Regions from separate parts of the Homo sapiens genome. Here region 2 is linked to region 1. A link means that fine-mapping ties the variant in region 1 to the expression of a gene that starts in the linked region. Tissue or cell type: monocytes after Pam3CSK4. Region 1 holds a variant in brackets; the other region holds the start of a gene. All regions are shown on one strand. Distances are between the middles of the regions.

The links. PIP is the estimated chance that this variant, and not a neighbour inherited with it, causes the effect.
Region 2: it holds the start of PLD2, and the variant in region 1 is fine-mapped to the expression of PLD2 in monocytes after Pam3CSK4 (Quach 2016, PIP 0.95).

Annotation. Positions count from the first base shown.
Region 1 is chr17:4,763,714-4,771,765 of GRCh38, forward strand. No RefSeq gene overlaps it. Among named protein-coding and RNA genes, the nearest start is that of TM4SF5, 4.1 kb to the right of the region's middle. RefSeq lists a silencer at 351-513. The variant A/G (reference allele first, on the strand shown) is at 5,033.
Region 2 is chr17:4,804,078-4,809,195 of GRCh38, forward strand. It overlaps PLD2 (phospholipase D2), which reads left to right and starts at 3,075. Exons shown (of 25, transcript NM_002663.5): 1 at 3,075-3,148; 2 at 3,695-3,804; 3 at 3,907-4,037; 4 at 4,197-4,339; 5 at 5,023-5,118. The coding sequence starts at 3,696. It also overlaps a transcript of C17orf114 not described here. RefSeq lists a silencer at 2,626-3,415 and an enhancer at 3,811-5,010.

The DNA of each region.
Region 1 (8,052 bases):
TTGTTGTTGTTGTTTTGACACGGGGTCTCGCTCTGTCGCCCAGGCTAGAGTGCATGCAGTGGCATGATCTCAGCTCATTGCAACCTCCGCCTCCCAGGTTCAAGCGATTCTCCTGCCTCAGCCTCCGGAGTAGCTGGGATTACAGGCATGTGCCACTACGCCCGGCTAATTTTGTATTTTTATAGAGATGGGGTTTCTCCATATTGGTCAGGCTGGCCTCAAACTCCCAACCTCAGGTGATCCACCTGCCTTGGCCTCCCAAAGTGCTGGGATTACAGACGTGAGACACCACGCCTGGCTAATTTTTGTATTTTTAGTAGAGATGAGGTTTCACCATGTTGGCCAGGCTGGTCTCAAACTCCTGACCTCAGGTGATCCACCCGCCTCAGCCTCCCGAAGTGCTGGGATTACAGGCGTGAGCCACCGGGCTTGGCCGAAAATATAGTCTCTAGCTTAGCAGCCATGTGCCTTTAGCAGCAGACTACAAAGTCTGCTACTATAATAAAAGCAGAAGACTGGGACTAACTCACTATCTCTGTCACATACTAGGTCAAGCATGTGCTACTCAGCTATGGGCAGTGAGTACGGAGCCACAGAGTTTAGACAGATTCCCTGGAGAGGATATTCGCTGGATGCCTCCCCATCATTCATTCTGTCTTTCCTCCTTCCTAATACTGCCCTTAATTTCCCAGCCTGGTGGCTTAGACAGAATTGACAACACCCCCTGTGCTGGAATGCCTCCATGTGAAGAAGGACATGTTTGCTTCCCCTTCCGCCATGATTGTAAGTTTCCTAAGGCCTCCCCAGCCATGCTAAACTGTGAGTCAATTAAACCTCTTTCCTCTATAAAGTACCAGTCTCGGGTATGTCTTTATTAGCAGCGTGAGAACAGACTCATACAGCATGTTCTACCCTCTGGCCACAGTGATCCGTGTAAGGGACAGACATAGAACCCAGTCTGCACCAAGGAGAAATTTTCTGGGGTAAATGGGAAAGAAACTTCCTCTCTACTCAGGGAAAGCTATGCGAGGAGATTCTCTTCCTCCTGGTGGTAGGGTGTAAAGACATAAGGTCTGAACTGCTGCAGCTAATACTACTGTCAGGAGGAAGATCCCACTTAAGGAGGAAGTCAAAGCCAAAAAAAGGAACAGCAGAGAGAATGGCAGAGAAACAAGAACACTGATGACATCCTGAACTTCTGGACCAAACTGCACCTGCAGTTAGTCCTACTTCAGTCCTACTGGATGTTTTGATTGCTTGAACCAATAAATTCCCTTTTTGTTGCAATAGAGTTGGGTTTTCTGTTACCTGGTATAGTTCCTTACAATGGACCCAGAGTATGGCAAGCAATAATGACATATTTAATAGTATTAATATCATTTTTAGAATTTACATTATACAGCTGCCCTTTAAAAGAATTTTTTTTTTTTTTTTTTTTTTTGAGACAGAGTTTTGCTCTTGCCCAGGCTGGAGTGCAATGGCGCGATCTTGGCTCACTGCAATCTCCACCTCCCAGGTTCAAGCGATTCTCCTGCCTCAGCCTTCCCAAGTAGCTGGGATTACAGGCATGCGCTACCAAGTCCAGCTAATTTTGTATTTTTAGTAGAGATGGGGTTTCTCCATGTGGGTCCGGCTGGTCTCAAACTCCCGACCTCAGGTGAGCCGCCTACCTCGGCCTCCCAAAGTGCTGGGATTACAGGCGTGAGCCACCACGCCCGGCCACTTCAAAAGAAATTTTTACGGGGCTAGGTGCAGTGGCTCACGCCTGTAATCCCAACACTTTGGGAAGCCTATGTGTGCAGATTTCTTGAGCCCAGGAGTTCAAGACCACTTGGGCAACAAAATGAAACCCCATTTCTACAAAAAATACAAAATGATGGCTGGGCTCGGTGGCTCACACTTGTAATCCCAGCACTTTCGGAGGCCGAAGTGGGCGGATCACCTGAGGTCGGGAGTTTGAGACCAGCCTGACCAACATGGAGAAACCCTGTCTCTACTAAAAATACAAAATTAGCCGGGCGTGGTGGCACATGCCTGTAATCCTAGCTACTAGGGAGGCTGAGGCAGGAGAATCGCTTGAACCTGGGAGGCAGAAGTTGCAGTAAGCTGAGATTGCGCCATTGCACTCCAGCCTGGGCAACAAGAGTGAAACTCTGTCTCAAAAAAAATATATATATATATATTTACATATATACACACAAAAAGATTAGACAAGCATGGTGGGTGGTGAACATCTGTAGTCCCAGTTACTTGGCAGGCTGAGGCAGGACGATCACTTGAGCCCAGGAGATAGAGTTTGCAGTGAGCCAAGATCATGCCACTGCACACCAGTCTGGACAACAGAGTGAGACACTGTCTTTAAAAAAAAATGAGACTGGGCACAATGGCTCTGGCCGGGTTGTGGTGGCTCATACCTGTAATCCCAGCACTTTGGGAGGCCAAGACAGGTGGATCACTTGAGGTCAGGAGTTCAAGACCACCCTCCAACATGGTGAAACTTAGTCTCTACTAAAAATATAAAAATTAGCCAGGCCTGGTGGCCCATGCTTGTAATCCCAGCTACTTGGGGGGCTAAGGCAGGAGAATCGCTTGAACTCAGAAGGCTGAGGTTGCAGAGTCAAGATGACGCCACTGCACTCCAGCCTGCATGACAGAGCAAGACTCTGACTCAAAACAAAAGAGAAGAAAAATATTTTTTTCCAAAATGTGCATCCAGTTTTGTAACCAGATATATGAAATTTATTTAGACTTACGTCAAGACTTCCCCATTTTGGGGTTTTTATTTTACTTCATCTCTTGGTGAGTCAACACAATTTCTCTAAAAAAAAGGAGCCAAAGTGTTATTTTGAAATCCAAACATTCTCAGAAATGCAATTGTGTTGCCCTTAACATACAAAATGCAACTTAGACATGTATATGATAGTTCTACCTTTTTTGGTGGACACAGCTGCCTTACTCCTTTGTCCTCTGACATTCAGTATTTCAGAGAAGACTCTGGCCACACCAACTATTGTTTCTTTCTAAGTAGCCTTTTTAAATTCTGCCTAGATGTATCCTTTAATTCAGATATTTTGTCAGGATGAATCTATGGTCAGCTGACTTTTAATATTTTACCTGCCGTGCAGTATAACTTTCAACCCACTGACCTGAGTGGATCTATCTGCGCTCAGTGACGTCTTCTCCTAGTGCAGATGTTTTAACTGTGGTGTCACTTCCACCAGTTCTATTCTTGTTCTTAGGAGAAGCCAGTTTCCTGAATTTTTTTTTTTTTTTTTTTGAGCCAGAGTCTCACTCTGTCACCCAGGCTGAAGCGCAATGGCGTGATCTTGGCTCACTGCAATCTCCACCTCCCGGGTTCAAGCGATTCTCCTGCCTAAACCTCCTGAGTAGCGGGGATTACAGGCACCCGCCACCATGCCCAGCTAATTTTTGTATTTTTAGTAGAGACGGGGTTTCCCCATGTTGGTCAGGCTGGTCTCGAATTCCTGACCTCAGGTGATCTGCCCGCCTCGGCCTCCCAAAGTGCTGGGATTACAAGCGTGACCCACTGAGCCTGGACCTTTTTTTTTTTTTTTTTTTTGAGATGGAGTCTTGCTCTGTTGCCCATACTGGGGTGCAATGGTGCGATCTCGGCTCACTGCAACCCCCACCTCCCGGGTTCAAGCGATTCTCCTGCCTCAGCCTCCTGAGTAGCTGGGATTACAGGTGCCTGCCATCACACTTGTCTAATTTTTGTATTTTTTGTGAAGATGGGGTTTCGCCATGTTGGCCAGGCTGGTCTCAAACTCCTGACCTCAGGTGATTCACCGAGCTTGGCCTCCCAAAGTGCTGGGATTACAGGCGTGAGCCACCGCGCCCGGCCAGCCTTTTCTTTCTTAAGTTATTCTGTTCCTAGTTCCAGGAGAATTCTAGTGATGTCATCAAAAATCTTCCTGGAAATCTCTTCCAAATCCTATAGTAAATGTTCCTCCAGAGGATTCTGTTTCTTTCAGTCTTCAGGTTGATTTGCCCTTCCCTGGTTTTGAGAAAATTTTTCAGAATCCCTATAATGTTTTGTTAACATTATTAACATTATTTCATTCATCCAGAATTGTATAAAAATAATGTAATGAATGCCTGTGGACCACCCCACCCACACAACTATTTTTTTTCTCTTTATTCATCCTCAAAACAGACACCATTTGGCTGGCCGCAGTGGCTCACACCTGTAATCCCAGCATTTTGGGAGACCGAGGTGGGTGGATCACCTGAGATCAGGAGTTCGAGAGCAGCCTGGCCAACATGGAGAAACCCTGTCTTCATCTCCACAAAAAATACAAAAATGAGCCAAGCGTGGTGGCGGGCACCTGTAATCCCAACTACTTGAGTCTCCTGAACCCGGGAGGCGGAGGTGGCGGTGAGCCGAGATCACGCCACTGCACTGCAGCCTGGGCAATAAGAGTGAAACTCTGTTTAAAAAAAAATAAAAAAGAGGCACCATCTCTCAGAATCAGCTTGAGCAACTTGTAGACAAATAGGTGGCCAGCTCTTGGCCCTGCTCTCTGTCCATCAGATCAATGGCTGAATCCCCTCTTCAGGTCCACGGTTGGAAGGGCCACTATTCGGGATATGACAGTTGCTCTGGTAGTTCAACATTAGTGCTGGTGACAACCTCTCATCGGCCACCTCCTGAGGAACCAGAGTTTTCCAGTGCCTGTGCTTCTCCCTCTGGCGCTGTTTCAGAGTAACTATTCTCCATACACTTCTCTTGCTGTGACTTCTGCTTATTTCTGGTGTCAGTTGCCTCTGGCTTTTGATTGCTTCTTTCTTGCATACAACTCTCAGTTTGAAGCCACCCCACTCTCTGATGACTGTCTCAGCTTGTCTCACAGACACATTTCCCAATCATGAAGATCCAGTCGGTGGATTGGTCATTATCCAGTCAGTGTACCTCTGTTGGATGGAGTTCTCACCTCGAGAGACCTCACAGGTCGCTGGCTACATGTCTGCCTTTGGGTCAGCTACTTGTTCCTCAATCAACCAGCCCTGGCCT[A/G]GATAAGGGGGTCTGTGTTAGGAACTTGTTACTGGGCAACAAACCATCCCCCTCGACGAAGTCTTAGTGTCAAATAAATATAAGCATTTATTTCACTGATACACACATAGGAGTTGGCTGGGGGTCAGGTGATCTAGGGTGGGATCCAATGTGACCCTTTTCCTTGTATCTTTTTTTTTTTTTTCTAGATGGAGTCTTCCTCTGTCACCCAGGCTGGAGTCCAGTGGTGCAATCTCGGCTCACTGCAACCTCCATCTCCCGGGTTCAAGCAATTCTCCTGCCTCAGCCTCCCGACTAGCTGGGATTACAGGTGCCTGCCACCACACCCAGCTAATTTTTTTTGTATTTTTAGTAGAGACAGGGTTTCACCACGGTAGCCAGGATGGTCTCGATCTCCTGACCTCATGATCTGCCCACCTTGTCCTCCCAAAGTGCTGGGATTACAGGCGTGAGCTACTGCGCCCGGCCAAAAGAAATTTTTTAAATTAGTTGAGTGTGGTGGTGTGGGCCTGTAATCCTGGCTACTAAGGAAGCTGAAGTGGGAAGACAGCTTGAGCTAGGAGGTCATAGCTGCAGCGAGCCATGATTATCTTACCATGGCACTCTAGTCTGAGTGACAGAGACCCTGTCTCAAAAAAAAAAAAAAAAGGATAATGTAAAATCTTTAAAGAAAAGGGACAGAGGCTGGGCGCAGTGGTTCATGCCTGTAATCCCAGCGTTTTCGGAGGCCGAGGCGGGGATCATCTGAGGTCGGGAGTTCGAGACTAGCCTGGCCAACATGGAGAAACCCCGTCTCTACTAAAAATACAAAATTAGCTGGGCGTGGTGTCGCATGCCTATAATCCCAGCTACTCGGGAGGCTGAGGCAGGAGAATTGCTTGAACTTGGGAGGTGGAGGTTGCAGTGAGCCATGATCGCACCACTGCACTCCAGCCTGGGCAACAAGAGCAAAACTCTGTCTCAAAAAACAAAAAAGAAGAGGAACAGAAAACATCAGAAGCAATATGGAAATGTTGTTTAAAGCATTAAACATGCCAACAGAAGCAAAACCAAATGTATCAGTCATCATAATTACCTATGAGTCAGAGACAAATAGTTGGGGAGGTTCAAAGTATTTTCTTTTTCAGGCATCCTCTGATTCAAGAGGTAAATTCTCCATGTATTTTTCTCAATCCAGTTCCTCTGTCTTATAAATAGCAGAGATTCTGGCTTTTCTCCATTTTCCACATTTCTGTAGTGGTCTGAGTGGGCCGCAAGGAGGGGCTGCATCAGGGGCCACTGGCTGGTGACACTTTCCAGGTGACAGCCTCATTGCATACCCTCTGAAGCCCTGCAGCCCTTCCTGCTACCCTCATCTCTTCATGGCACTCCCACATCCTACTTGAGCTAGGGCTCATTCTGTGGGGGCCTTCACTCTCCTGTTTGCTTCTGAGACCCAGGAGGCAGAGGTTGCAGTGAGCCGAGATCACACCACTAAACTCCAGCCTGGGTGACAGAGCAAGACTCCATCTCAAAAAAAAAACAACAAAAAACCATTAGCCAGGTGTGGTGGCACACACCTATAGTCCTAGCTACTCGGGAGGCTGAGGTGGGAGGATCACTTGAGCCCAGGTGGTCAGGGCTGCAGGGAGCCATGATCCACTCCACACCAGCCTGGGCAACAAAGGGAGACCCTGGTCTCAAAAACATTTTTTTAATTAAAAAAAAAAGAAGTCGACTGGGTGGCTTGGCTCATGCTTGTAATCCCAGCACTTTGGGAGGCTGAGGCAGGTGGATCATTTGAGGTGAGGAGTTTGAGACCAGCCTGGCCAACATGGTGAAACCCCGTCTCTACTAAAAATACAAAAATTAGCTGGGTGTGGTGGTGGGCGCCTGTAATCCCAGCTACTTGGGAGGCTGAGGCAGGAGAATCGCTTGAACCCAGGAGGCGGAGGTTGCAGTGAGCCAAGATCACGCCACTGCTCTCCAGCCTGGGCGGCAGAGTGAGACTCCGTCTCAAAAAAAAAAGAAGTTATCAAGGAAACTGCAGCACCCCAACAAAAACAGAACTTCTTTGACCTCAGAATGGAAAAATGGCAGAAGCTGATTCTCACAGAGTTGGCTCAGATCGCATGGCTGTTGCTAAATCAAACACCGAGGCTAGCAGGATAGAACGCTCTCATCAATGAGGCCTAGGTCCCGAGCCCACCCTGAGAGACAGGCAGTGGCCTCAAGAGGAGGAGACATCAATAATCAAATACCAGGAAGACGAAATGCAAGGACAATAAGAGCCCACAATCACCTCTTTAATTTCTCCCTGGGAAGAATGCTGCCTGAGAGGCTGGCAGAAACGAAGAGGCCACCACACATCTGCTCTGTGCTTCCTAGTTTACAAAATACTTCTCAGGTTGTCCCATTTAATCCTCACAAGTAGCCCACAAGGCAAGTGGCATCACTTATTTATTTATCTATTTATTTATTTATTTATTTATTTACTTTTTGAGACAGAGTTTCATTCTTGTCACTTTATTTACTTATTTATTTATTTTTCGAGACAGAGTTTCACTCTTGTCACCCAGGCTGGAGTGCAATGGCACAATCTCAGCTCACTGCAACCTCCACCTTCCAGGTTCAAGTGATCCTCCTGCTTCAGCCTCTCGAATAGCTGGGATTACAGGTGCCCGCCACCATGCACAGATAACTTTTGCATTTTTAGTAGTGACGGGGTTTCACCACGTTGGCCAGGCTGGTCTCAAACTCCTGACCTCAGGTGATCCACCCTCCTCGGCCTCCCAAAGTGCTGGGATTACAGGTGTGAGCCACCGTGCCCAGACACAAGTGGCAACTGAGACTTAAGAGACATGAAGGGGCTTGGCTAAGTTGCAAAGCAGGTATGGAACCAACAGAGGGGCTGTGGAGCTGTGCAGAAAAAACAGGAAGGCACTAACCCAGGGTAATGTGTCCATAGCCCCCACCTTGTCCAGCACCACATCCTCCCTTCACCTCAGGGCTGCAGCTCCTCCGCCTCTGCCTCCTCAGGG
Region 2 (5,118 bases), 39 kb after region 1:
CATCGATGCCCTCAGACAGTTTGGGGTGGCCAGAGCCAAGGCTGGGAGCATCTAGTCAAGAGCATCCTAGCCAAGGACTCTAAGTGCTCTTAAGTAAAGCTGTGGAAGTGCTGTGTTTTTTTTCTTTTTTCTTTTTTTTTTTTTTGAGATGGAGTCTCGCTCTGTTGCCCAGGCTGGAGTGCAGTGGCACGATCTCAGCTCACTGCAACCTCCGCCTCCCGGGTTCACGCCATTCTCCTGCCTCAGCCTCCCAAGTAGCTGGGACTACAGGTGCCCGCCACCACGCCTGGCTAATTTTTTGTATTTTTAATAGAGACAGGGTTTCCCTGTGTTAGCCAGGATGGTCTCGATATCGTGACCTCGTGATCTGCCCTCCTCAGCCTCGCAAAGTGCTGGGATTCCAAGCGTGAGCCACTGCGCCCAGCCACAAGTGCTGTTTCATCATTCCCTGAGGGTGCCACAACGTGGGGAGTGTTAGGTTGCTGATTACAGGGTACTGCCTGAGTTACACAGAAATGTTTCTTTCTTTTTTTTTTTTTTTTGAGACAGTCTCACTCTGTCACCAGGCCGGAGTGTAGTGGCACTGTCCCGGCTCACTGCAATTTCTGACTCCCTGGTTCAAATGATTCTCCTGCCTCAGCCTCCCGAGTAGTACGCATCACCACACTCAGCTAATTTTTTGTATTTTTAGTAGAGACGGGGTTCACCATGTTAGCCAAGATGGTCTCGATCTCCTGACCTCGTGATCTGCCCGCCTCGGCCTCCCAAAGTGCTGGGATTACAGGTGTGAGCCACCGCGCCCCGCCTTCTTTTTCTTTCAATGAACTTTATTGAAGCAAAAATGCACATACAATGTAATGCACACATCTTAACGTACAGTTCCATGAGTATTACCAAGTGTATGCTCCTATGCAATCACCACTCCTATCAAAATACAGGGCATTCTTATCATCCTGGAATGTTCCCTCACGTGTCCCTTTACAGGCAATCTTTTCCCTACACCCTGCCACAAGCAACTACTGATCTGATTTCCATCACTATAGGTTGTTTTTGCCTGTTTTATAAGTTTAAGACCGGGTGCGGTGGCTCACGCCTGTAATCCCAGCACTTTAGGCCAAGGAGGGCGGATCATTTGAGGTCAGGAGTTCGACGCCAGCCTGACCAACATGGAGGAACCCCGTCTCTACTAAAAATACAAAAAATTAGCTAGGCGTGGTGGCAGGTGCCTGTAATCCCAGCTACTCAGGAGGCTGAGGCAGGAGAGAACCCGGGAGGCGGAGGTTGCAGTGAGCCGAGATCGCGCCATTGCACTCCAGCCTGGGCAATAACAGCGAAACTCTGTCTCAAAAAAAAAAATTAGCAAAAGGCCGGGAACGGTGGCTCACGCCTGTAATCCCAGCACTTTGGGAGGCTGAGGAGGGCGGATCACTTGAGGTCTGGAGTTTGAGACCAGCCCGGCCAACATGGTGAAACCCCGTCTCTACTAAAAATACAAAAATTAGCCGGAAATCCCTTGAACCTGGAAGGGGGAGGTTGCAGTGAGCCGAGATCACGCCACTGCAGTCCAGCATGGGCAACAAGAGCGAGACTCTGGCCGGGCGCGGTGGCTCACGCCTGTAATCCCAGTACTTTGGAAGGCCGAGGAGGGCGGATCACAAGGTCAAGAGATCGAGACCATCCTGGATAACACGGTGAGACCCCGTTTCTACTAAAAATACAAAAAAAATTAGCTGGGCGTGGTGGCGGACGCCTGTAGTCCCAGCTACTCAGGAGGCTGAGGCAGGAGAATGGCGTGAACCTGGGAGGCGGAGCTTGCAGTGAGCCGAGATCGCGCCACTGCACTCCAGCCTGGGCAACACAGCAAGACTCCATCTCAAAAAAAGAAAAAAAAAGAGCGAGACTCCGTCTCATAAAAATAAAAATAAAAATAAATAAAAAATAGCAAAAGACTGAATAGGCACTTTATAAAAGAAGACATACAAATGGCCAATCAGCACATGAAACATGGTCAATATCATTGATCTCCAGACAAATGCAAATCAAATTGCAATGATGTGCCCACAACACCCATTAAATGGCCAACGCTAAAGACTGACAATATCCAACGTTGGCCATGCCATGGAATAACTGGAACCACCATACACTGATTTTGGAAATCTAGAATGGAAAAACCATTTAGAAAAAAATCGTTTGGCAGTTTCTTATAAGTTAAACACACACTGATATGATCGAACAACTCCACTCCCTAGTTACCCAAGATAAAGGAAAACTATCCACGCAAACTTACAGGAATGTTTACAGGAGCTAAAACAATGGGCAAAACTAGAAACCCACATGTATATCAAAAGAGAAAAATAAATCTGCTTTTTAAAAAAGATTGAAATATCTTGTATTTTAATACCCGAAAAAATTTTATTTCCCCCTAGACTGCCAATTCCAGCTGAGCAGGCTCTCTAACCATCTTATTTACTACCATACTCTCAATTTCTGGCACGGAGTAAGCGCGCAATAAATGTTTGGTGAATGAATGAAAGAATGCCCGCTTTCATACACTAATGGGTTTGTAGCCACCACCCCTCAGGCCTTTTACGCCCTCATTCCTTCCAGGTACAAACGCTATCTGGGCTAGGCCAAATGTGGCTCGCAGCGGGTCCGGGAGCGGGGCACCTACCGGCAGCTCCCGCAGCGGAGGCGCGTCCCCCGGGCGCCGAGGCAGCGCCCGCGGCTGGAGGGGCCCGGGGCGGGCGCCGAGCCCGAGGGATGCGCGCAGCGCGGGGTGCCCCGGGAGGCAGCGGCCGGGCACGCTGGGACCGACGGCGCGGGACGCCCCGACGCCGGGCAGCACTTACCCGCCGCACCGAGAGAGCTACGCGGCCCCGCGGCCCTGCAGGGCACAGGGCGGCCCCCTGCCCGGGGCTCTCGGTGGCGCACTGGGCGGCGGGGCGGGCCGAGGGCAGCGGGGGCGGGACAGGACAGACGAGAATCCCGCGGAGGTGAGGCCGGGGGCCGCCCCGCCCCCGAGGGCAGGCCCTGAGCCCCGGCCCCGCCTCGGCCGGCCCCGCCTCGGCCGGGGCGTGGGCTCCGGCTGCAGCTCCGGTCTGCTCTCTTGGCTCCGGAACCCCCGCGGGCGCTGGCTCCGTCTGCCAGGGTGAGGGGGCCGGGAAGGGGCGCGCGGGGGTCCCGGGTCTCGGAAATCGGGCGGGGACGGAACGGGCTCGGGCTGCGGGGCCTCCAGACTCAGTCGCACGCTCAGATTTCGGGATTTCTACCCCCGGCTGGGATCGCGTAACTTCCTCATTCCCGCCTGGACCCCTGCCCCCGGCCCGCCTGGCCTGGCGTGAGCCCCGTAGCCGCGCGCTCTCCGGACCACCCAGGGCCGCTTCCCCGCGCAGCTGCTGCGCCGCCCCAGGTCGGAGCCTTCCGGGCCTGGCTGGGTGTTCCCCGGGGCTCTGGTTACGGGACGGGGCGGGGGGCGGGGGGCGGGACTGGGATTGTGGATGAAGGACTAAGGTAGGGGATGGGGGCTCGAAGGGGTCGGTGGGGCGTTGCAAACTGGTCAGGCGTCATCCGCGGGCGGTCAGGAGGCCGTGGGGGAAGAGGAGGATCTGGAAGAGATGGAGGACCTGCGGGAGTTAGGATGGGGGGCGGGTTCTGCAGGACAGCTCGCCTCCCTGAGGCTTCCCAATGTTCCTAGGATGACGGCGACCCCTGAGAGCCTCTTCCCCACTGGGGACGAACTGGACTCCAGCCAGCTCCAGATGGAGTCCGATGAGGTGGACACCCTGAAGGAGGGAGAGGACCCAGGTACACAGGGAAGATGGATGGCCCTCAGGGAGGAGAGGCGTTCGGGAGCCAGGGGGCTGGGGCCTGTTGTGGTCTACACTCCTCGACTTTCTTTCCTCCCAGCCGACCGGATGCACCCGTTTCTGGCCATCTATGAGCTTCAGTCTCTGAAAGTGCACCCCTTGGTGTTCGCACCTGGGGTCCCTGTCACAGCCCAGGTGGTGGGCACCGAAAGATATACCAGCGGATCCAAGGTGGCCAGACTGGCCCCAGGGAGGGGGAAAGGGAGGGCGGCCCGGAATGGATCCAAGGTGGCTGGGCTGGCCCCAGGGAAGGGGCAAAAGGAGGGCTGGCCAGAGTGGGGAGGCGGGGACCCACGCAGGGGACATCCATTCAGTTCCTCATACCCCTAGGTGGGAACCTGCACTCTGTATTCTGTCCGCTTGACTCACGGCGACTTTTCCTGGACAACCAAGAAGAAATACCGTCATTTTCAGGAGCTGCATCGGGACCTCCTGAGACACAAAGTCTTGATGAGTCTGCTCCCTCTGGCTCGGTGAGGGCGACCGGACTGCTTCCTGTAGAGGGCAGGTGCTCCCCACCCTCCTTTCTGTCTGTCTCACCCCGGGGCCACAACCTTTCCTCCCTGCAACTCTGGCCACTGTGCTGCCTCCCCTGACCCCAGTTACCAGGAAACTTTCCCTGCTCAGCTTTCCCTGTCCATGGTTCTGTGCCAGCATCTCAGCTGGGCGGGATGCCCAAAATGCTCTTGGCAGCCTCACCCTTTTCTAGTCTCCATTCCCAGGGTAGGGGGCCTCCGTTTTGCCAGCCTCTAGGCCTTTTGTTTGTTTTTTGTTTTTGTTTTGTACAAGGTCTCCCTCTGTCACCCAGGCTAGAGTGCAGTGGTATGATCTTGGCTCATGGCAACCTCCTGGGCTCAAGCAGTCCTCCCGTCTCAGCCTCCAGAGTAGCTAGGACCACAGCCACCACACCCAACTAATTTTTGTATATTTTGTAGAGATGGGGTGCTGCTGTGTTGCCCAGGCTGGTCTTAAATTCCTGAGCTCAAGTGATCCACCTGCTGCGGCCTCCCCAAGTGCTGGGATTCCAGGCGTGAGCCACCACGCCTGGCCACCTCCAGGCCTCTTCTTTTCCTCCGAGCCCCATCTCCAGTGTTTTCAGGAACCAGAGCACCCAGCCTCCCAGCTCTTACCTGACCTTCATCCATCCTTTCCACAGATTTGCCGTTGCCTATTCTCCAGCCCGAGATGCAGGCAACAGAGAGATGCCCTCTCTACCCCGGGCAGGTCCTGAGGGCTCCACCAGACATGCAGC